Regions from separate parts of the Homo sapiens genome. Here region 1 is linked to region 2. Evidence: fine-mapped QTL for protein levels in blood plasma. A gene starts in region 2. The other region holds a variant in brackets. All regions are shown on one strand. Distances are between the middles of the regions.

Evidence for each region. A credible set is the group of variants that fine-mapping cannot tell apart. PIP is the posterior inclusion probability: the model's chance that the variant is causal. The UK Biobank Pharma Proteomics Project read protein levels with antibody pairs (Olink). The fine-mapping took linkage between variants from a reference panel, not from the people measured, so its PIPs are less certain.
Region 1: its variant is the best candidate, but not a certain one, in a credible set for the plasma level of the APOA4 protein (UK Biobank, PIP 0.68).

The regions. Positions count from the first base shown.
Region 1 is chr11:116,797,961-116,815,132 of GRCh38, forward strand. LNC-RHL1 (lncRNA regulator of hepatic lineages 1) reads right to left here and starts at 16,222. Exons shown (of 2, transcript XR_007062898.1): 1 at 15,956-16,222; 2 at 14,949-15,493. The variant C/G (reference allele first, on the strand shown) is at 8,694.
Region 2 is chr11:116,822,939-116,829,568 of GRCh38, forward strand. APOA4 (apolipoprotein A4) reads right to left here and starts at 366. Exons shown (of 3, transcript NM_000482.4): 1 at 205-366. The coding sequence starts at 253. RefSeq lists enhancers at 2,354-2,720, 2,575-2,869, 6,489-6,630.

The DNA.
Region 1 (17,172 bases), 20 kb before region 2:
CAGTCCCTCAAAAAATTTAATCTAGAATTACCTTATGACCCAGCAATTCCACCTCTGGGCATATATCCAAAAGATAAAAGCAGGGACTGGAGCAGATATTTGTATGCTCGTGTTCCTAGTAGTATTATCCACAATAACCAGGGGGTGGAAACAACCCAAATGTCCATTGACAGATGAATGAATAAACAAAATGTGGTATATACAGACAACAAAATATCACTTAGCCTTAAATAATGACAATCGGGGGCCAGGCATAGTGGCTCACGCCTGTAATCCCAGCACTTTGGGAGGCCGAGACGGGCAGATCACTTGAGGCCGGAAGTGCAAGACCAGCCTGGCCAATATGGTAAAACCCCGTCTCTACTAAAAATACAAAAATTAGCCAGGTGTGGTGGTGCATGCCTGTCATTCCAGCTACTTGGGAGGCTGAGGCACGAGAATTGCTTGAACCTGGAAGGCAGAGGCTGCAGTGAACTGAGATTGTGCTACTGCCCTCCAGCCTGGGTGACAGAGCGAGACTGTGTCTCAAAAAAAAAAAAAAAGAAAAGAAAAGAAAAGGAAATCTGACACATGCTATAACGTGGATGACCCTTGAAGACATGATGCTAAGTGAAACAAGCCAGTCGTAGAACGACACATACTGTGATTCTGAGGTATCCAGAATAGTCAGATTTGTAGAGACAGAAAGTATAATTCTGGTTTCTAGGAGAAGTGAGGAAGGAGAAGGTATTGGTTAATAGGTACAAGTTTCTGTTTGGGAAGATTAAAAGTTTCTGGAGCTAGATAGTGGTGCACAACAGTGTAAATGTATTTAGTGCTACTGGGCTATATACTTAGCTACAATGTACAATAGCTACAATGGTAATTTTTATGTTATGTATATTTTGCCACAATTTAAAAAGGAATTTCTCATACTCTAATGGTTTTTTGCTGATAACCCAAACTTAAAGAGCCTGTGCTGTAAAATACAACTGCGCTGGATTGTCTTTTTGCAAATAGCATTATCAGTGCCCTTTCTAAGGTCTTTTATGAGATGCAGAGGGGACACTTGGAACTATTAATACATTTTCTAGAATCCCTTCTCTATATGAGCCTAGGTTAGAGTCAGCCAGCGTGAGACGGAAGAGGAGAGGCCATTATGTTTCAATGCCGGTTGCAGACAGAAGCATGGACAGGCTTGGAGTTTAAAGCAGCTTCTGGGTGACCTTCCCAGGAATCACATGCATTGATATTGCAGGCATAATAAGGCGAGCTTCCCATTTGTAGCCACTTACTAATGAGCGTTTGAGAGTCACTCCTTCTGAACTGCAAACCAAGGTGGTCACTCCTCCAGCCCTTCCAAGAGTTGGATAAACCTTTAATTTTTTGTTTTAAAGCCTTTCATACTTGAAATACGTGGAATGGCTTTTGTTTTTCTGACTGAACCTGGATTGATACAATGGGTAGATGCAACACACACTCATGCTTCCCTGTTTGGTGGCATCTTATAGTTTCAGTGTTGAACATGTTTTGAGTTGGTTGGAGGTATATGTATATGTGTATGTGGTATGTGCTTTGTGTGTGGAACCATTTGAAATAATTATAGCCAACATGACACTTCACTCTGAATACTTCAACATACATTGTGAAAAATAAGGACTCTTTTACAAAAGAAAAAAACATTATCATACCTTTGAAAATTAACACAATTCCTTAATATCATCTAACATATCCTACATATTCAGATTTTCCCCAAAATGCTTTCATAGTTGTTTTTCTCTCTCTGTAAATTCAAGCTCTAACACATCTCATCTGGTTGTTATCCCACTTTAGTTTTTAAATTTAGAACCGTTCTCCCCAACCCCACCATTTGTTTGTTTTCATGACATTGATTTTTTTTTGGAAGAGTGCAAGGAGGACATCTTGTAAAATGTCCCACATTCTGGATTTGAGTGATTACTTTCTCATGATTAGATTAAGGTTAAACATTTTTGGCAAAAATACTAGGTGATATCTGGCCATTCTTACTGTATCCTAGCTGGAGGTTGCACTCTATTTAGTGATGTTAAGTTTGATCACTCCGTTAAAGTGATAACAACCAGATTTCTCCATGGCTAGTAAAGTTTGGTTTTTTACGTTATTGATAAGTAATTTGTGGAGCAATACTTTGAAGCCATGTGAGCATCCCATTCTGCAACAATTTTTCACCCAATGGTTTTAGCATTCATTGATGATCCTTGCCTGAATCGAATATTATCCTGAGAGTTGCCAGATAGTGATTTTTAAAAAATTCTAGGCCAGGTGCAGTAGCTCATGCCTGTAATCCCAGCTCTTTGGAAGGCTGAGATGAGAGGATCACTTGAACCCAGGAATTTGAGACCAGCCTTGGCAACATGGCAAAACCTGTCTCTACAAAAAAAAAAAAAAAAAAAAAAAAAAAACTAAAAATAAAATACAAAAATTAGCCTAGCATGGTGGCACACATGCTTGTAGTCCCAGCCACTCAGGAGGCTGAGGTGGGAGGATCACCAGAGCCTGGGAGGTTGAGGCTGCAGTGAGCCGTGATCAAGCCACTGCACTCCAGCCTGGGCCACAGAGTTGCCCAAAACAAAATGAAAACTTAAAGAATTCCATCATTCCAGCTACATTTATTATCCGATTTCTTCTGTAAGTAAGAGCTTTTAGGGAACTTGTTCTTAAATCCAGAGACTTTGAACAGATTCCTTCCAGGTGAACTTGTTTGTGCTGCCCTTTCCTTGACTGTCGTTTTGTATCACAGTGTTTGCGGATAGCTGCATTTTTAAGAGAGTTGCCCCTCTATTTTGTTTTGTGTTTTTGTTTTTTAATACACAAGAATTGCTGACTCATTCTGGATGTGTAGTAAGAAGGATTTTAAAATGTAGATTGGTAAAGGTTAGCAGGTACCTTATTCCTTACTGCTCAGCAGCAGCACTTTTGCCTTAAACACATGGATTAAGCAAGTGTATGGGTCTCAAATAGACACTTGATATGCACCAAGTGAGAAGATCTTCTAGAGTCTTTCTTTTGTGACCTGTTCTTTAAAGCAACATTATGACTTCTCCTTCTGAACAGTAAGTATTTTTTTTTTTTTTTTTTTTTTTTTGGCAGAGTCTCACTCTGTCACCCAGGGTGGCTGGAGTACAGTGCTGTGATCTCGGCTCTCGGCAACCCAGTCACTTGGGTTCAAGCGATTCTCCTGCCTCAGCCTCCTGAGTAGCTGGGATTACAGGCGTGTGCCACCGTGCCTGGCTAATTTTTGTATTTTTAGTAGAGATGGGGGTTATTCCATGTTGGCCAGGCTGGTCTTGAACTCCTGACCTCAGGTGATCCACCCACTTCGGACTCCCAAAGCTCCCAAAGTACTGGGATTACAGGTGTGAGCCACCACACCCGGGCCAAGTAAATCTTGTTACAAATTGTTCTCCTTCAGTCTTGTCTTCTAAGAACTCAGATGTAAACTGTGAGGTAGCAGTCTTTACTTGGTGTTCCTGGACTCCATCTCAGAACGCACCAAAAACATCTATATGATTGTGGAGCCACTCTACATTGTTTCTACTGCTATCACCAGACCTTAATGGAGGTGTGGGTTTTTTAAAAATCAATATACATCTCAAATACATTTCAGAAAGAAAGGTGTTTATGCTTAACGCAGTGTTAAAACTATCCCAGCAAGAAAGTAGTAACCTGTGTAAGCATTTTTTTGTTTCTTTGCTTGTTTGTTTATTTGTTTTTGAGACAGGATCTCACTTTGTCACCCAGGCTAGAGTGCAGTGGCATGATCACAGTTCACTGCAGCCTCAACCTCCCAGGCTCAAGCAATCCTCCAGCCTCTGCCTCAAGCAATCCTCCAGCCTCTGCCTCCCAAGAATCTGTAGTTTCTGGGACTACAGGAGTGTCCCACAACACCCAGCTGATTTTTTATTTTTTTGGTAGAGAAAGGATCTCACTATGTTGCCCAGGCTGGCCTTGAACTCCTGGGCTCAAGCAATCCTCCTGCCTCAGCCTCCCAAAGCACTGGGATTACAGGCATGAACCACCATGCCTGGCCTTTTGTTTGTTTTGAAATAAGTTCTATTTGTCAAAAAGAAAGAGAATTAAATAGAACATCTATAAGTGAAAAAAATATAGTCATTATAATATAAAACACATTTAGCTACAGTTGGAGAGAGAATTAGTAAGCTAGAAGGTAGATCTGAGAAAATCACACAGAAAGAATCACAGAAATAAAAAGGAGGATATTGACCAGGCACGGTGGCTCATGCCTGTAATCCCAGCACTTTGGGAGGCCGAGGCGGGTGATATTGGCCAGGCATGGTGGCTCATGCCTATAATCCCAGCACTTTGGGAGGCCGAGGTGGGTGGATCACCTGAGGTCAGGAGTTTCAGACCAGCCTGGCCAATATGGTGAAACCCCGTCTCTACTAAAAATACAAAAATTAGCCGGGCGTGGTGGTGCATGCCTGTAATCCCAGCTACTTGGGAGACTGAGGCAGGAGAATAGCTTGAACCTGGGAGGCAGAGTTTGCCGTGAGCCAAGATCATGCAATTGCACTCCGTCCTGGGCCACAGAGCAAAACTCTGTCTCAAAAAAATTAAATATAAAAAGGAGGGTATGAATAGACGGTAAGAGACATGGAGGACAGAATGGGAGGTCCAATATATGCCTGTAGGATTTCCACGAAGAGAACACAGGGACTGTGGAAGAGGCAATATTCAAAAGATGATGGCTGAGAAATTTCAAACATTGAAGCAAGATGTGACCGGAATCCTCAGGTACAGGAAGCATCCTGAGTCTTGGTAGGAAAAATTAACACACAACCAAATGAGGACACATCGCAGGAATCTGCAGAACACTGAAGGCAATGGATATCTTAAAATCAACCAAAGAGAAAGACTAATGATCTACACACGAAGCATGATTAAACCGGCAACTGATTTATCATCAATGTACCTTCTAAAGACTGAAAGGAAATTAATGGCCAACCAAGACTTATACTCAGGTGAACTATTATTTGAGAGGAAGAAGTTAATTTCAGAGAAAGAGAGTTTACCACTCACAGATCCTCACTGAAAAGAACTACTAAAAATCTGAAAAGGAAACAGAACCCAGAAAAAAGGAATAGGATAGAAGGAGACATGGGGAGCAATGAAATTAGTAAACGTTTAGGTAAATCCAAAAAACATTAGTGAAAATACACACACACACACTTATGAGACTAGTTTTCACTAAAAATTGGTCAAATAGTGGCAATTTCATATAGTTCTACCTAACAAAAATGTATTTACACATAGTTTAGTTTGTGGGGGTTTTGTTTGCTTGTTTGTTTGTTTGTTTTTTGAGACAGGGTCTCACCGTTGCCCAGGATGGAGTGCAGTGGTGTAATCACTGCAGCCTCGACCACCCTGGGCTCAGATGATCCTCCCACCTCAGTCTTCTGAGTAGCTAGGACCACAGGCATACACCACCATGCCCAGCTAATTTTTATATTTTTTTGTAGGGACGGGGGTCTCGCTATGTTTCCCAGGCTGGTCTCGAACTCATGGGCTCAAGCGAGCTGCCCGCCTCGGCCTCAAAAGTGTTGGGATTACAGGTGTAAGCCACCCTACACCTGGCCAAGTTTATCTCATTTCCTACTGTACTCCCAGTGCCTAGACCAGTGCTTATCACATGGTAGGGAGGGCTCAAAAACATCTATTGATGAAGGGACTACTTTGGAGGAGGTGTTAAAAGTAATGAGGAACTAAAATATCAGACCGAAGCAACCTGGAAATGGGAAAGGAGAGATCAAAGTGAAAGCATTCAGCAGCCTTTGCATTATTCGGGAGGAAGATAGGGATATTGATTATCTATAGACTTTGTTAGGTCAGACAAGAATATTAAAATTTTAAGGATAACCCATAAAACGAATAGAAAGAATGGATAACTTTTAAACTAGTATATGGGGAAGAGAGACTAAAGAGCATCCGATTGACTTCTAGTAACGGACGGTGGATTAATTGCATGCATTAGCCTCTGCTGTTCTCTGAAATCTCAATAACGTGGCATTGAAGTGCACTTTTTACAAAATGCATAAACCCAAAGGGAAAATAGAAAAGGAGACAAAAATAACAACATTTGGGAAGCTGGAAAGCTTCCAAATGATCAAACGGTGGTGACAGGCACACCTGACATGAATTTTGAAGCAGCAGTGGAGAAAGCCAAGAAGGCCCCTGATTTTCACTACTAAACTCTCCAAATGCTCTGACATTAGTGTCAACATTCTTCTGGAAGAGTGGGTGGCAGTGGGACTAGAAATATGGCAGTTGGTCGAGAGTCTGTTTGAGAAGCAGCTGTTCTCTTCAACTCTACTTGGCTGGGTACCCCCAAAGCAGCAGAAAACCAGATGCTTATTCTCTCTGAAAAGGGTAAAAGAGTGGGACTCCGGCCTGGAGAAAACTAGGTATTGTTGGGGGCCAGGGTTTTTGTGCTAAGAAAAATTAAGGAAAACTTTATACATTAAATTTTGAGGCTGGGCACAGTGGCTCATGCCTGTAATCCCAACACTTTGAGAAGGCAAGGCAGGAGGATCGCTTGAGCCCAGGAGTTCGATACCAGCCTGGGCAATGTAGCGAGACCCAGTCTCTGCAAAGAATACAAAAATTAGCCAGGTATGGTGGCACCTGTGGTCCTAGCTACTCAGGAGGCTGAGGCAGAAGGATTACTTGAGCCCACGAGTTAGAGACCGCAGTGAGCCATGATCATGCTACTGCTCTCTAGCCTGGGCGACAGAATGAGACCCCATCTCAAAAATAAATTTTTTTAAAAGACTCCTCAGTTCACCATCTTTCCCCATATTGAAAATGGAACAACATTCTCCCTGAGAAATTTGGCTGGCCCAAGGAAATAGGCCTAAAGAAACTGACTTTTGGGGGTTCCCTGCTCTCCAGATGGTCCCTCCTAAATTGAACCATGGACTCAGGATTTCACATCAGCTTCTTCTAATTTATGCAGCTTTCTTCTAATTTACTGTGGGGTTTTTTCGGTGTTTTTTGTTTTGTTTTGTTTTTTGAGACAGGGTCTTGCTCTGTCATCCAGCTGGAGTGCAGTGGTGTGATCATAGCTCACTGCAGCCTCAAACTCCTGGGCTCAAGTGATCCTCCCACCTCAGCCTCCTAAGTAGCTGGGGCTACAGGCATGACCACCACACCTGGCTAACTTTTTAATTTTTTGTAGAGGTGGGGGTCTTGACATGTTGCTCAGGCTGGTCTTGAAATCCTGGCCTCAAGCGATCCCCCTGCCTCAGCCTCCCAAAGTGCTGGGATTTCAAGCATGTGCCACTGTGCCTGGCTAAGAATACTTAAAGGTGAAGTGAGAAGTTCACATGATGTCATATCAGGAGGTACACAATGGCTACTTGTCCCACTAATAGCAATCCTTAGTTTTTTCACTTCGTGAGGTGGTCACTAGCAGACCTCTTGGTTGGAAAGATAGGTTATTTCCCTTTGTAATTAACAAGTAACAGAATTGGGATACTTTGGCATCTTAAAATACCTTGGCAACCTGATGAACATAGCATACATTCAAGATTTTTGCCTGAATTAATTATTACATTAGAAGAGTTGCAGAATGAGAATGTTCTAATTCTACTATTTCTTTTATATATTTCAGCTGATGTTATTCTATGAAGAAAAGCTCCCTCATCAGTGAAGATGAACTGCACTTCTTTCTAAAGAGGCAATGTCAGACGGGCACGGTGGCCTATAATCCTAGCACTTTGGGAGGCCGAGGAGGGTGGATCACCTGAGGTCAGGAGTTCGAGACCAACCTGGCCAACATGGTAAAACCCTGTCTCTACTTAAAATACAAAAATTAGCCGGGCATGGTGGCACATGCCTGTAATCCTAGCTACATGGGAGGCTGAGGCAGAAGAATCGCTTGAACCTGAGAGGCAGAGGTTGCAGTGAGCTAAGATTGTACCACTGCACTCCAGGCTGGGTGACAGAGTGAGACTCTGTCTCAAAAAAAAACAAAACAAAACGAAACAAAAAAACAGTTGACAGTAGTTGTTTTTGTAGAGTGAAAAATAGAGGTGGGGGTTGAGATACTGCTGCTATTTTAAACTAACTTGTAGATCTGTTTGACTCTTTTTTAAAAAACAATTTTTTGGAGAGATGAAGCCTTGCTATGTAGCCCGGGCTGCTCTCAAACCCCTGGCCTCAAGTGATCCCCCTGTCTCGACCTCCCAAAGTGCTGGGGTTACAGACATAAGTCACCACACCTGGCTCTGTTTGACTCTTTATGTGCAGTTTGAACTTTTTAACTGAATTTTTTAAAAGGTGTGAAATTAGTCTTTAAAGGAACACAAAACCAACAGAGAAGCAAGCAGGAAGATACAAGAAGCAAAGAAATATCATAGTAAAATGAAAATACAAAATAATATGACATAAATAAAACAGTAATCACTATCAAATTAAATAGATTAAGTGAGCCCACAAGGCATTGTCTCTGGGACTAGTCCGCTGGGTCGAAGTCCTGCCACTTATTGGTTCTGTGACCTTTGGCAAATTAACTTCTCTGTGATTCCATTTCTTTCTTTTGTTTTCTTTCTTTCGTTTTTTTTTTTGAGACAGAGTCTCACTCTGTCACTCAGGCTGGGTGCAGTGGTGCAATCACCAATCACAACTTACTGCAGCCTCCACCTCCTGGGCCCACG[C/G]GATCCTCTCACCTCAGTCTCCTGAGTCCCTGGGAACACAGACATGTGCCACCCTGCCAAGCTAATTTTTAAATTTTTTGTAGCGATTGGGTCTCACTATATTGCCTAGGCTGGTCTCAGACTCCTGAGCTCAAGTGATCCTCCCGCCTTGGCCTCCCAAAGTGCTGGGATTACAGGCATGAGCCACTGCACCCAGCCTCAAACTCTGTAAAAGGGGAATAATGATAATACTTGCCTCATAGGGCTTGTGGGAAATAATGCTTTATTACTGTAGGTTAAAAAGCACACAAACATGCTTGACACAGTAGGTGCTACATCAGTTTACTATTGTTGTTGTTTTCAGATTGGATTTTATAAAAACTCTACTTATTTGCAATTTATAAGAGGCATACCTAAAATATAATGTCAGAGAAAGGTTAAAAAGTGGAGCCAGGGAAGGAATTTAAGAAGACATACCAGACCAATAGTAATCAAAAGAAAGCAGGTATGCAATGTAACATCAGAACAAATAAGCTTTGCTTATTTGGATTGATAGGGATAGATAGGATTGATAGGGATAAAGCAGATCATTATTTAATGATCAAAGAAGAAATTTGGCTGGGCGTGGTGGCTCACACCTGTAATCCCAGCGCTTTGGGAGGCCGGGGCAGGGGGATGGATCACAAGGTCAGGAGTTTGAGACCAGCCTGACCAAAGTGGTGAAACCCTGTCTCTACTAAAAATACAAAAAATTATCCGGGTGTGGTGGTGCATGCCTGTAGTCCCAGCTACTCAGGAGGCTGAGGCAGGAAAATCATTTGAACCGGGGAGGCAGAGGTTGCAGTGAACTGAGATCGCACCACTGCACTCCAGCCTGGGTGACAGAATAAGACTCTGTCTCAAAAAAAAAGAAAAAAGAAGAAGAAGAATAAATTCACTGGGAAGATAAAACAATTCTGAACCTGACAACATAGTCTCAAAATACGTAAAGCAAAAAGCCACTGAGTCCCAAAGAGAACTTGACAAATTTGGTAGGAGATTTTAATACCATTTCCTCAAACTGATGGAATCACAGAAAAAAAATATAAGAACAAGTCAGCAAACTTGATATGGAAAGAACAGCATCCCCACCTGAGAGTCAGCAGCCTCCATGCAGGAGGACCGAGGGGAAGCCAGGGAGCAGGGCAGCCTGAGCCAAGGCCAAGCCCAGTTGAGGACAGGAAGTGGAAGGAGGCACCTAGGAAGGCTGAAGATGCAGAGGAGTGTGTTCCAGAGGCAGTGGGAAAACTGGGAGGGAATAGTTCTCGGGATGTTGGATAGAGAGAATAAGCAAAGAACAATGCAGGAAGAAGAGTGGGGTGGGAGGCCGTGACCTTGCTAGAGAGCCTTATGTTTTGGGCTATGACCAGGGCTGACAGAAGTGTGAGGCATGGCGGGTTCAGAAGAGAGATCAATGATGCATCGCACATCTCTAAAGCTGATGAAGGCAGCAATTGGCACTGAGGCCAACCTGGTTGGGACTCAGAGAGGTGGGACACATATTGTGTGCCAGGCACCCTGCCACATCTTGGAGAGAATAAGACACAAACCCTCATCTAGTGGGTTGGGGAAATGATGCAGGGCTCAGTGTGGCTAGCGCGTTGGGGTGGGAAGCAGCCTGGGCACGCCCACAAGGCTCTCTGCCTTCCAGAATCTGGCCCAGTTGGGTTTGAAAAGATTTAATGACAATGAGCTCTCTATGGACCTACCTTGTGCCCAGTATTTACCTTTCTTATCTGTAACGCTCAAGTCAATACTCTAAGGTAGGAATTGTTATCCTCATTTTATTTACAGAGAAACTGGAGTTCAGAGAGATTCTTGCCCAAGGTCTTGCCCTGGGCCAATTCCAGGTCTATCTAACTCCAAAGTCCATGCTCAGTACACTGTCTCCTGCTTGGGAGCAAAGAGAGGACTTTGCTCCTAAGACCAGACCCATACCACAAAGAGCCTCAACACTTAACTACTGGGAGAAAACACCGTCCTAAGTAAAAAGCCAGGTGCTCTTCCCCTTACCCCAGGGGGTTTAGGATTTGGGAGAAAGAGGCCTGATGGAATATAGGGGTACCAGGTCCATGTGTTAACTGATCTGGGTACAAGAACAGTAACTCAAGGCCAGCCAGGGAAAGAACAGCCAAGCCGAGGCACAGCTGCCAAGTCATCACCTCTCGTTCCTTGTCCCACCATGCCTTGTCTCAGCACGAACATAACCCCCTCAGTTTCCCTCTTCTCCTGTCTCCTGCATAGGCAGAACCAGTTCTGAGTGATAGCCAGGACAGCAGGTCCTCGGGTCCTCAGGCTTGCCACTACAACCTGTTTACCCTGCGCAGACCATGATCCATCAGGTCGAGAAATGCCCCACTGCTAGATGTTTGTGTCAAAAATGCCTGCCGGTGGTGCAACAGCTGGGTGGGACCAGTGACGTGGACTTGAGTGCCACAAAATGTACCGAACACATTCTGAGTCAACATAGTGATGGTGTGCCAACTCCAGATAAAGATTTTCATTATTATTTGTTTGGGTTTTGTTTATATGTACTCCTCTTCATCACCAAAGATTTGAGGCTACAGAAAATGAAAATTGAAATGGTAATAAAAGAGAGGGGCTTGCAGAGAGGACCACAGGATGGGGAAAATAGAAATAATCGCAGAAAATCATGACCCGATGAAGAGCACAATCATAGAAGCACTAACAGATGACAAGGTTGCCAGATCTTCACCATTGGTTTTGGGTTTCGTGAAAACCCGCGAAGAGAGGGATTCAGTCAATTACATATTTTTTTTCCTTCTTTCTTTTATTTTTATTTTTTATTTTTTCTTGAAATGGAGTCTCATTCCGTCACCAAGGCTGGAGTGCAGTGGTGCAATCTTGGCTCACTGCAGCCTTCACCTCCTGAGGTTCAAGCCATTCTCCTGATTCAGCTTCCTGAATAGCTGGGACTACAGGCATGAACCACCATGCCTGGCTAATTTTTGTATTTTTAGTAGAGACTGTCACACGCGAGACAGGGTTTCACCATGTTTGCCAGGCTCTTGAACTACTGACCTCAAGTGACCCGCCCACCGCAGCCTCCCAAAGTCCTGGAATTACAGGCATGAGCCACCGTGCCTGGCTTGTTTTAATTTTTTATTATAAACAACACTGTGATGAACATCCACATAGCTAAATGCATGCATTCCATGATCATTTTCTTAAGATAATTTTTTTCTTATTATTTGTGTATTTATTTATTTATTTTTGAGACGGAGTCTTGCTCTGTCACCCAGGCAAGAGTGCAGTGGCACAATCTCGGCTTACTGCAACCTCCACCTCCCAGGTTCAAACAATTCTCCTGCCTCAGCCTCTTAAGTAGCTGGGATACAGGCACAAGCCACCAAGCCCAGCTAATTTTGTATTTTTAGTAGAGACAGAGTTTCGCCATGTTGGCCAGGCTGGTCGCCAACTCCTGACCTCAGGCAATCGCCTGCCTCGGCCTCCCAAAGTGCTGGGATTACAGGCGTGAGCCACCTCACCTGGCCTTAAGATACATTTTTGAAGGGAAGAACATTTTCTGTCCAAGTACATTCCTGTTCACAAACCCTTTTCCATAACACTGGAGACTTCCTGGGGAGGTTGGAACCAATGGCTTAGACTCCAAAGGAATGAATGTACCATAAAGCTTTCAGCAATCTTCTGTCAATGCTACTTGTATAGACTTCCAGACAAACATTGAAGATTGAATGCATGCATCTAATTTCACTTTTTTTTCCTGAAATCCTCCTGAAACTATAATGAAGAAATGTTTGGGAAAAGATGTAGCCAGGCACTGTGGCTTATGCCTGTAATCCTAGCACTTTGGGAGGCCAAGGTGGGCAGATCGCTTGAGTCCAGGAGTTTGAGACTAGCCTGGGCAACATGGCGAAACCCTGTCTCTACTGAAAAAATACAAAAAATCAGCCAGGCATGGCAGACCTGTAGTTCCAGCTACTCAGGGGGCTGAGGTGTGAGGATCACTTGAGCCTGGGAGGTAGAAGCTGCCGTGAGCCCTGATTGTGCCACTGAACTCCAGCCTGGGCGACAGAGTGAGACCCTGTCTCAAAAAACAAAAAAAAAAAAAAAAAAAAAAGAGACGGGATCGGGAAAAGGAAGAAAAGACCACAGCACAATTTTGGATGTTAGAAAGCAAATGGACCAGTTGTGACTGATTTAGCCGGCCTTGGGAATGCTGGTCATGAGCTGGCAGTGAGAAAAGATGAGTTCCAGCCTGACTTACACCGCTGGATTCTCAAAAGGCGAAGAGATGATAGTAGGGCTCCTGCCAGCCCACGCTGCACCTGTGTGTGCAATAGAAACAGCCTCCCCTTTCTCAAGACACTCTACAGCCGTCTGCCAGAAATTTGACATGATAAATATACAAATCTGTCATGTCTACCCTGTGAGGGAGGTGGCCTCAGAATGATACAGTGCACAGCTTGCACAGCCATATATGACTGTCCTGAATTGGGACACCAGTTTCTACTGAAAGTAGAGGTGACGGAGGAGGCTGTCATAAAACATGAAAGATTGGTTGAAACTATTTAAGGAGCAGTTAGAGCTTTAGCTTCCCTGTCTCACCTTAGTAGAAGACTGGAAGTTTATTCTCTTGAACGTCAGGCAGAGTTGAGGGCAGGAGACCTGTACTAGCAAGAGGATTAAATCAAAGTATACCCTCTGAAATGCTGAATCACCCTCCTGCTTCTTCCACTTGGCCCCAGGGACACTGTATTCAGGCCTTTACCCTCCAGGCAGAAGAGTGAAAGACATTTCTTAGGGGAATATGTCCAGCTCAAGAGGTAAGACCCAAAGATTTTCACAATGGGGTTCCCCAGCTAAACATCTCAGTGGATCACCCTGCAGTGACATTCATAGTCAATAAGTACTACGCACGTATTGGAGCTTCAAATCACCTTTAAAATCTCCCATTCTTTTCTTTTTTCTTTTTGAGACAGAGTCTCGCTCTGTCACCCAGGCTGGAGTGCAGTGGTGCGATCTCGGCTCACTGCAAGCTCTGCCTCCCGGGTTCACGCCATTCTCCTGCCTCAGCCTCCTGAGTAACTGGGACTACAGGCACCTGCCACCACGCCTGGCTAATTTTTTGCATATTTAGTAGAGACAGAGTTTCACCATGTTAGCCAGGATGGTCTCGATCTCCTGACCTCGTGATCCACCCACCTTGGCCTCCCAAAGTGCTGGGATTACAGGCGTGAGCCACCGCTCCCAGCCCAAATCTCCCACTCTTAAACTTAAGCAACCAAGGATTACCAGTCATTTGAGGAAAGATTCTAACATGAAAGATAGAGACCCAAAACAAACAAATATTTAAAAAGGAAGTTAGAGAAAACTGAGAATATACAGAAAGAAGAACATTGAAAAATGCCATTAATAACATCAGAGAATGAAAAGATTACATTGATTAAACAAGAACAGGATAGTATAAAAAGACCTTCACAGAATAACAATAACAAAAACTCTTAGAAATTAAAAAAAAGATAGTAGAAATAAAAACTGAATAGAGAGTAAAGAAATAGTTCAGAAAGGGAGAGCATGTAGAGATTGAAGTAAGAACAAAGATAAGAAAATGAGAGGATCCACGCCGGGCGCAGTGGCTCACGCCTGTAATCCCAGCACTTTGGGATTTAATATAAATATATTAAATATTTTAAATAATATAATTTTAAATAATATAAATATATTAAATATATTAAATATTTAAATATATTAAATATTTAAATCTTTTTGTCTTGCTGAGTTGTATGAGATATATATATATTTATATATAAATATAGATATAAATACATATAAATATAAAAATATATATATATCTCATACAACTCAGCAAGACAAAAAGATTTATTAAATTCATTCAGTCAACAAATATTTATTGAATACCTACTAAGTTCTAGTCATCATGCTAGGCACTGACTGTTCAAGAATAAACATAGACAAGACTTCTGCCCTTTCAGAAACCAGCCAAGATTCTTCAACCCAAGGCAGCTGTGAAGTATAACACATCTCTGGCTCAATTTTCTCCATATGGTTTGGGGTTCCATGAATGAGTCTGTGGGAAGATTTCCTGTACGTAGAATGCATGTATAAAGGAATAATTATTCTATGGTTCGAAAGAGAAAAAAAGTAAGATCAAAGTGTAGAAGCTATGTTAAGAAAGATTCCAGTTTAATGATTTTTGAAAGAGCAGTAAAAATAAGACCAAGATGTGGAAGCTGTATTGAGAAAGATCCAATTTAATTCTAATAATCTTTAACAGAATTGCCCAAAGATAGAATGAATTGTTTTGAGAGATGGTACAGTTAGCTGTCAGTGGGAGTGTTCAATACTAAGCAAGATTCACTCGCTCAACCATTGAGTGATGACCACATGCAGGCACTGTGCTAGGCTCTCTGTATTTTCAGTAAGCTATTGTTGTACAACAAAGCACCCTAAAACAGTGTCTTAGAACAACAGTAAATGTTTATGATCTCTCACAAAGTCTGTGGGTCAGCAGCTTGGCTGTGTGTTTCTGGTTCAGAGTCTGTCATGAGGTTGCATCTGAAGGCTTGGCTGAGGCTGGAGGATCTGTTTCCAAGGTGAATCACTTTACATGGCTGGCAAGTTGGTGCTAGCTGTTTGGAAGGGGCTTCAGTTCCCCCCTGTGTTGACCTCTTCACAGGGCTGCTTGCACGTCCTCCCAACATGGCAGCTATCTTCCCTCAGAATGAGTGATCCAAGAGAAATCAAGGTAGGTGCCACAATGCCCTTTATGATCTAGACTTAGAAGTGAAATACCATGACATAGCCTATTGATCACACATCAGCCACCATTGTGAGGGCTAGCTACCACATCCTGCAAATACAATGATGAACAAACAAATGGTGTGCCTGAGCTCGAGGGCTGTTAGCCTAGAGTTAAGATCATTCCTTAAATGATATCAAAGGAATTAGGGCTGAGAGACAAGGTTGTTCCCTCCAACCCTAATGCCCTGTGATCTTATGATTCCAGGTCCTAGGTCTTTTGTTCCCATATCACCAATCCATTATCTCAGAACCAGCAGCTCACCAAACCCTCGCTCCTCAGATGTGGGCCATTCGGGGGTTTTTATTGTGCCCCTGCATTGTCAGCTACTTGTCATCACACAGCAAGATAGCATGACTCCACCCTGCACGCTCTCAGACAGGAGACAAGGGAGTGCCCAAATAACCCTAAGCTTGTTGTTTCTGTCCCCAGGACATACCTCAGCCTCCTCCTGGGAGCACAGGGCATACTATGATAACAGCAGGAGGACACGGCGTCCCCATGCAGGAGCTGCTTTTGATCCTGCCAGGACAATCCCTCAAGAGCAGCAAGGCCCTGTATGTACAGGAAGAGAGTGGCCCTCAGATCACTTCCCTTTGCCCTAATCAGGGCCACGTAGTACACCAGAGACCTCAGGGGTAGTGACCCTGGATGTTCTCAGAGGACTTCTGACCTTTGAACTTGGGGATGGGCATAGGAGTGTGGCTAGCATCTCAGCCTGGCCCAAACCAGTGCTGGTCAGCATGCCTTTGAGGCACTAACCCAGGCCCACAGAGGAGTCATCTACTTCCAAGTCACCTGAGGAGCCAGTGGTGACCAGGGAGATAATGGCCTGAAATTGTGCTGGCTCTGAGGGACTGTTGGGTAAGCTAATGTGGGCTGGGCTGGAGTTCAAACACACCTCCCTGGTGCCCACAGGGACCTCCCAGCACACGCTCTCCTATGGGTCTCAATGATTCAGTCTTTCCTGGTGGCATAGACTGTAGCCTGGAGAAGCTCTGGGGAATATTTCTTTTCTTACTTATTTCTGGTTTTAAAAGTACTACTCTCAGGATGACTATTGTTAAAAACAAAATAAAACAAAACCAAAAAATAACAGAAAACAACAAGCGTTGGAGAGGCTGTGAAGAAATTGGAACCCTGGGCGTCACCAGTGGGAATGTGAAATGGTGCCACTACTATAAAAAAACAGTTTGGCGGTTCCTCCAAAATTTAAATATAGAATTACCGTGTGACCCAGCAATTCCACTTCTGGATATTTGCTCAGAAGAATTGAGAGCAAGGACTGGAAAGATATGTGTACACCCCCATTCATAGCGGCAGTTTTCACAATTGCTTAATGGATAGAGTTTTCTGTTTGGGGTGATGAAAAGATTTTCAGAAATAGTGGTGGCGGTGGTTGCACAACATTGTAAATGTAATTAATGCCACTGACTTGAACACCTATAAATAGTTTAAATGGTAAATTTTATGTTATAAAAGTAATACTAAAGTGGTGGCATTTTTTTCTTTTCTTCTTCTTCTTTTTTTTTTTTTTCTTGAGACAGGGTCTTCCTCTGTTGCCCAGGCTGGACTGCAGTGGCATGATCTCAACTCACCCCAGCCTCAACCTCCTGGGCTCAAGCAATCCTCCCACCTCAGTCTCTCGAGTAGCTT
Region 2 (6,630 bases):
AAACTGGTATAGCACCAATGCCAATGGGCCCACCACTGGGACTGGGCCAGCTCTCCTGTGAGCCACTTGGCAGCCAGGCAGACCTCATGTCCAGCTGGGGGCTGATGGGCACTCAGAAGTGTCCTTTTGCTTTGGCTCAGCCTCCATCCTGCACTACTCAGAGCAGCAGCCCAGGAGTGCCATCCAAAGACAGCTTCTACTCACCGGCGACAGCCACCAGGGCCAGGGTCAGGACCACGGCCTTCAGGAACATCCTGAGCTGCTTGCTGGGCTGGAGGAGTTTCTTGCCACACTGGATCCTCCCTACAATCAGGGGAGCTGACAGAGAGGTCCTCAGGAGAGCTCACCTGCGCTGCAGTGGGAACTGACTGAAGCTCAGAGCCAGCCAGACATTTAAACTCTCTCCCTATCGCCACCCCCCTGGCTGCCCTCCCCTCCTCCTTCCTCAGTGTGACTCCACGCTGGAAGGTGACACATTCCCAAGAGGCCTCTTGGACTTTTGTGACCCTGAGACTACGTGGAAGCTGACAGCAGATCAGGGCTCAGGCGATAGTTAGAAGTGGTGGCTGTTCCGTGCGTGGGCACCCCCACCCCCACCCCACCAACCTCAGCATGGAAGGGAGGAGGGGAACGGAAAACAGTAGGAGAAACACCTCAGGGAGCCCATGAGCCCGGGACTGATGCCTCGAGGCCCTGCTGGCGGCTCTGGGTTTGTGCCGGGCTCATGGGGGGCAAAGTCCACATCTCCTCTGTCTACCCCAGTGAAGACAGGTCCCCCCAGTCTCCACATCCGCCACTAATGCTGACTCCATCTCAGAGCACCAGACACTGGAGTGGGACCATCCAGGACTGCAGACAGCATAGTGAGCTAAAATCTAGGTCTCTTGTCAAGGTACACCCAAGAGGAGGGGGCCCTGGAGAGCCTTTGGGCAGATGGGTGTGGGAGACAGGGCCTTGTCCTGAAAGGGTTAATTGTAGAGTGCTTCATGTCCCACTCCCATGCTGTGCCTCCTTGGTCTAGTTATTCAAAGCCCTGAGCTTCAGTTTCTCCTCTGAACAATGGGATGGTTCAGTACATTAAAGAAGACATTGCTTGCGAAGTGGGTAGTACGGTCATCTCTCAGTCTCCATGGGAAATTGATTCCAGGACCCTCTGCAGATACCAAAATCCATGGATGTTCAAGTCCTTGATATAAAATGGCATAGTATTTGCATATAACCTAAGCACAGCCTCCCACATACTTTAAATCTCTAGATTACTTATAATACCTAATACGACGGAAATGCTGTGTGAATGGTTGTTATACTGTATTGTTTAGGAGGTAATCACCAAAAAAGTCTGTATATGTTTAGTACAGGTGCAATTTTTTTTTTTTTTGAGATGGAGTCTTACTCTGTCACCCAGGCTGGAGTGCAGTGGCACGATCTTAGCTCACTGCAATCTCTGCCCCCCAGGTTCAAGTGATTCTCCTGCCTCAGCCTCCTGAGTAGCTGGGATTACAGGCACCCACCACCACGCCCAGCTAATTTGTGTATTTACAGCAGAGACGGGGTTTCACCATGTTGCTCAGGCTGGTCTCCAACTCCTGGCCTCAAGCAATCCTCCCATGTGGGCCTCCCAAAGTGCTGGGCTTATAGGCGTGAGCCACTGCGCCCTGCCCAGATGCAATTTTTTTAAAACATTGTTTTTAATGGAGATGGGGTGTCGCTATGTTGCTCAGGCTGGTCTCCAACTCCTGGCCTTAAGTGATCCTCCAATCTCTGCCTCCTAAAATGCTGGGCTTACAGGCATGAGCCACTGCACCCGGCCCACAGATGCAATTTAAAAAAAAAAATATATATATATATATATATATATTTTTTTTTTTTTTTTTTTTTTTGAGATGGAGTCTTGCTCTGTCACCCAGGCTGGAGTGCAGTGGCACGATCTCGGCTCACTGCAAGCTCTGCCTCCCGGGTTCACGCCATTCTCCTGCCTCAGCCTCCCAAGTAGCTGGGACCATAGGCGCCCGCCACCACGCCCGGCTAATTTTTTTTTTTTTTTTTGTATTTTTAGTAGAGATGGGGTTTCGCCGTGTTAGCCAGGATGGTCTCGATCTCCTGACCTCGTGATCCGCCCGCCTCAACCTCCCAAAGTGCTGAGATTACAGGCGTGAGCCACCACGCCCGGCCTAAAAAATTATTTTCAATCCAAGGTTGGTTGAATCCATGGACACAGAAACCAAGGATACAGAGGGCTGCCTATAGAGCTCCTGGCACAGAGTAAGCTCTGAAAAATAGTTGCTGTTATTATAATAATCATACTGTATAATAATCATACTGTGTTCCTGATTTGGAGCAAAGCAGGGAGGGTAGCAGAGTGCTCCCTCCTCTAGTGAGAGTGGCAGAGTGAGACTCAGCCCTCTGAGGGGCGCCAGGTGGGCCAGAGGCAGGGTGATGGGTGGGACCAGCCTGAGGCCTGACTCCTGCCCTTCTTGCCCCCCAGCCACACTCCCTGGGCAGGAGCAGCTGGCTTGAGCAGAATCTTGGGACCTGAGGCTCTCAGGGGACCTCCCATTGGGGGATGGAGGGCAATGGTGGTGGTGCCCAGGAGGTCTTCTACTTAGATGTCTATTGGATCTCTAAATGAGGCTGCATGCATAATCACACACAAACATCCACTGAGAAGGTGACACACCACGTCAGCATGGGTCCCTCTGCCGGACCACACCACTCCTAGTGACTATGAGGTGACATCCAGGCACGTTGCACTATTGGCTCCTGTCGGTGAGTGCAGTGCCTGACAACAGTGAGCTACATTTATTTGTAAAAATGAACGCCATCAGAGTAGACCACAATTGTACTAACTCTAATTTGCTTTGTGTTCATTTTTTCAGTTTCCAGAAGTGGCTTAATGTTTCCTAGGGTCAAAGGCAGTCAAATGACCTCCTGACTCTGGCACCCCTTCTGCTGGGTCCCCACTGCCCTGTAGTGGTCCCCACGCTACCATGCTGCCTCCTTTTTGATGCAGCCTGTGCCATCTCTCCGTGATTGTTGGGGTCAGATGCTGGAGTCCACTCCCTGGCTTGGCATCCAGGCTCCAACACGTACTGCCTGTGTGTCCTTGGGCAAGTCTCATAACCTCTCTGAGCCTCAGTTACCTTGGTGAGACATAACCATTGTACCTGCCTCCTAGGCTGTGAGGATTCACTGAGATGATCTTATAGTGCTTGCAACAATGTCTGGCACATAGGAAAAGTGATCACTAAATGTTAGCCACGTCTTACTCCTGCAAGGCTCACCTCCCTGGAACCCATCGGTCCCAACCCTGCTCCTGAATCAGGCACAGTCCAGCTTGCAGCGGGAGCAAAGGTCAGTACTCAGTGCCCCTGTCCCTTCCCCAGGCCAGAGGGGAGGAGGAGACTGAGTCACGAATGACACCTCAGCCGCAGTTTGACCTCCAGGACTTACAGTCCTAGCAGCCGGTGCCACTAGCATGTGAGAGGTCCAGAGGCGCTTCTGTCTCACCCGCCCGCCTGGGTGCACCCATGCTGGGAGCGCCTGCACCATTTGAGCATGTCCGAGAGCATCCACCAGAGTGTGTGTGGATTCACAGAAGTGTGCAAATCACTAAGAACCAAGGGACTGGCACAGCCCATGCGTGCACCCACGCTCGCGAGGGGACCTGCTGCCTTTCAACGTGGCGGGGACGTGACCTGTTAATGAATGTATTTACTTCCCAAAGTCTGAGGGTACGTTTTGCATCAATCTGTAGATGGATTTGTTTTGGGGAGCAGGGAGAGAATGAGAGCCCCCTGTGCTCAGTCTTAGAGGGTGCAAGTAGCTGATGGGAAGAGCAGACTGCCTTCCAGCCAGGCCTGGTCCTGTGAGTCAGGGACGTCCATCTTAGTGGGCATGAAAGGCCTGTGTGATCTCGAGGGAGACATCGCCTCTCCAAGCCTCTCCTTATCTGTGCAACAGGCAGACTTAATGATTGGTGAGGCAATGAGGCTGATAGCTCAGCATTAGCTACAGCCACCCCTCCTGGCCAACCACACAGGGATCAAACCAGGGGTCAGTCCAGAGGTCAGAGTCAGGAGCAGACAACTCAGATCCAGCCAGGGACAGGCAGGTCACACGGACATGTGCCTCACGTATGCTTCAAGGGGCCCTCCCCCGGGCAGAACTGAAGGACAGCTCCTGTTGCCATAGGAGGGAGCTGGGTGAGATACTAGGAGGAACTTCCGGCATGATGATGTGTGATGAACAAGGGCCTCTGGCCAACAGGTCTGAATCAGGGCTGCCCAGCCCAGCCTGGTGGGAAGGGCATGGAGCATGGGGGCTCATGTACTAAACCTCACCTGGACACAAGGTGAAACAGCCCAACCCCAGAGGACCATTTTTGGCCCCGGATGGTCAAATCCCCTCTTCCTCCCATCTACCACTGGCTTCTCCCTGGAGCAGTCTTCATCCCAGGGGAGCCATGATGGGAGAGAGGGGCAGCGCAGGCTGGCCACCAAGAGATCCCCTGCCGGGGTGCAGGTTGGACTGTTGGTGAGGGGCCACAGGTATTCTCAGGTACCAAGCCCTTGGAAGGAGACAAGGTACCAGGCTTCCTGGAGGTGTGCTACATCTAGCTCAGCACCCTGCCAGGTCTCTCTACCCACATGTCCTGACCTCCCTGGGTCCGTTGCCATGCGGGAGAGAGAGGCCAGGCTCCTCCAGACCCTCTGCAGAGATGGAAAGGCTTGGAGGGTCTGGGGCCACGGGACCCCGCCAGCCCATTCTAGCACACCCGGGCCCATAGACCTTGTTGCCTGCCCCTGCCTGGATCTGGGTCCCCACTGTGCCTTTGCCTCTGGGGCTATGGAGCAGGCCGCAGCAGAAGAGGAAAGGGCATCCCCAATACCAAATCCTCCAGTGACCACTTCTTCACCTTCTACCCCACCACCAAAGTCTGCAGGAGACTTGAGACAGGTTTGTTCTGGGCGTGTGACTGATGCCTCTATAGGGGTCTCAGTGCTCTAAGCCGTCTGGTATTTGCCTGGGGTGTGTGAAGACCTGGATTAAGGTTCCCAGCCTTACTACTAATGGGCTGTGCACTTGGAGCCCTTAGAGCCTTAGGTTTCTAACCTATAAAATGGACTTAACGTCTACTTCACAGGGTTCTATTTGCATTTTAACAGAAAACAAAGTCTTAAGTCAAAGGAATGAATCTCTCTCTCTCTCTCTCTCTCTCTTTTTTAGACCAAGTCTAGCTCTGTCACTGGAGTGCAATGGTGCGATCTCTGCTCACTGCAACCTCCACCTCCGGGGTTCAAGCAATTCTCGTGCCTCAGCCTCCTGAGTAGCTGGGACTACAGGCGTGCATCACCATGCTCGGCTAATTTTTTGTATTTTTAGTAGAGACTGGGTTTCGCCATGTTGCCCAGGCTGGTCTCGAACTCCTGGCCTCAGATATCCGTCCGTCCCAGCCTCCCAAAGTGCTGGGATTACAGGCATGAGCCACTGTGCCCAGCCAGGAATGGATCGCTAATAGAGGAATTCCAAGTCTCACCCACCGATAAAGAATTCTGAGGGCAGAGCCGGGCCACTTTCTCAGGCCTCTGATTTCATACTGTGGTGTTAGTTACTTCTGAGAGGACAGCTTGCTGCCAGAGCTCTATTTTTTATGTTAGAGGCTCCTTCTGCCTGCAGACTCTGCTGTCTGGGAAGGGCACAGCGTTAGGAGGGAGAGGGAGGTGTGAGTCCCTCCATGGACCCGCTGCTTTGTACTTCTCTATCTCATTTCCTTTTCAGCACCACTCTGGGCAATCAGTATTCCAGCCCCATTTTATCCTCAGAAAATTGAGGCTCTGAGATGTTATCTCTGTGACCTGGGTCCTATTACGTGCCAAAGGCATCATTTAAGCCTAAGATGTCCTGGCTCCAAGGTGTCAGCATCTGGAAGACAGGCGCCCTCATCCTGCCATCCCTGCTGCGGCTTCACTGTGGGCCCAGGGGACATCTCAGCCCCGAGAAGGGTCAGCGGCCCCTCCTGGACCACCGACTCCCCGCAGAACTCCTCTGTGCCCTCTCCTCACCAGACCTTGTTCCTCCCAGTTGCTCCCACAGCCAGGGGGCAGTGAGGGCTGCTCTTCCCCCAGCCCCACTGAGGAACCCAGGAAGGTGAACGAGAGAATCAGTCCTGGTGGGGGCTGGGGAGGGCCCCAGACATGAGACCAGCTCCTCCCCCAGGGGATGTTATCAGTGGGTCCAGAGGGCAAAATAGGGAGCCTGGTGGAGGGAGGGGCAAAGGCCTCGGGCTCTGAGCGGCCTTGGCCCTTCTCCACCAACCCCTGCCCTACACTAAGGGGGAGGCAGCGGGGGGCACACAGGGTGGGGGCGGGTGGGGGGCTGCTGGGTGAGCAGCACTCGCCTGCCTGGATTGAAACCCAGAGATGGAGGTGCTGGGAGGGGCTGTGAGAGCTCAGCCCTGTAACCAGGCCTTGCCGGAGCCACTGATGCCTGGTCTTCTGTGCCTTTACTCCAAACACCCCCCAGCCCAAGCCACCCACTTGTTCTCAAGTCTGAAGAAGCCCCTCACCCCTCTACTCCAGGCTGTGTTCAGGGCTTGGGGCTGGTGGAGGGAGGGGCCTGAAATTCCAGTGT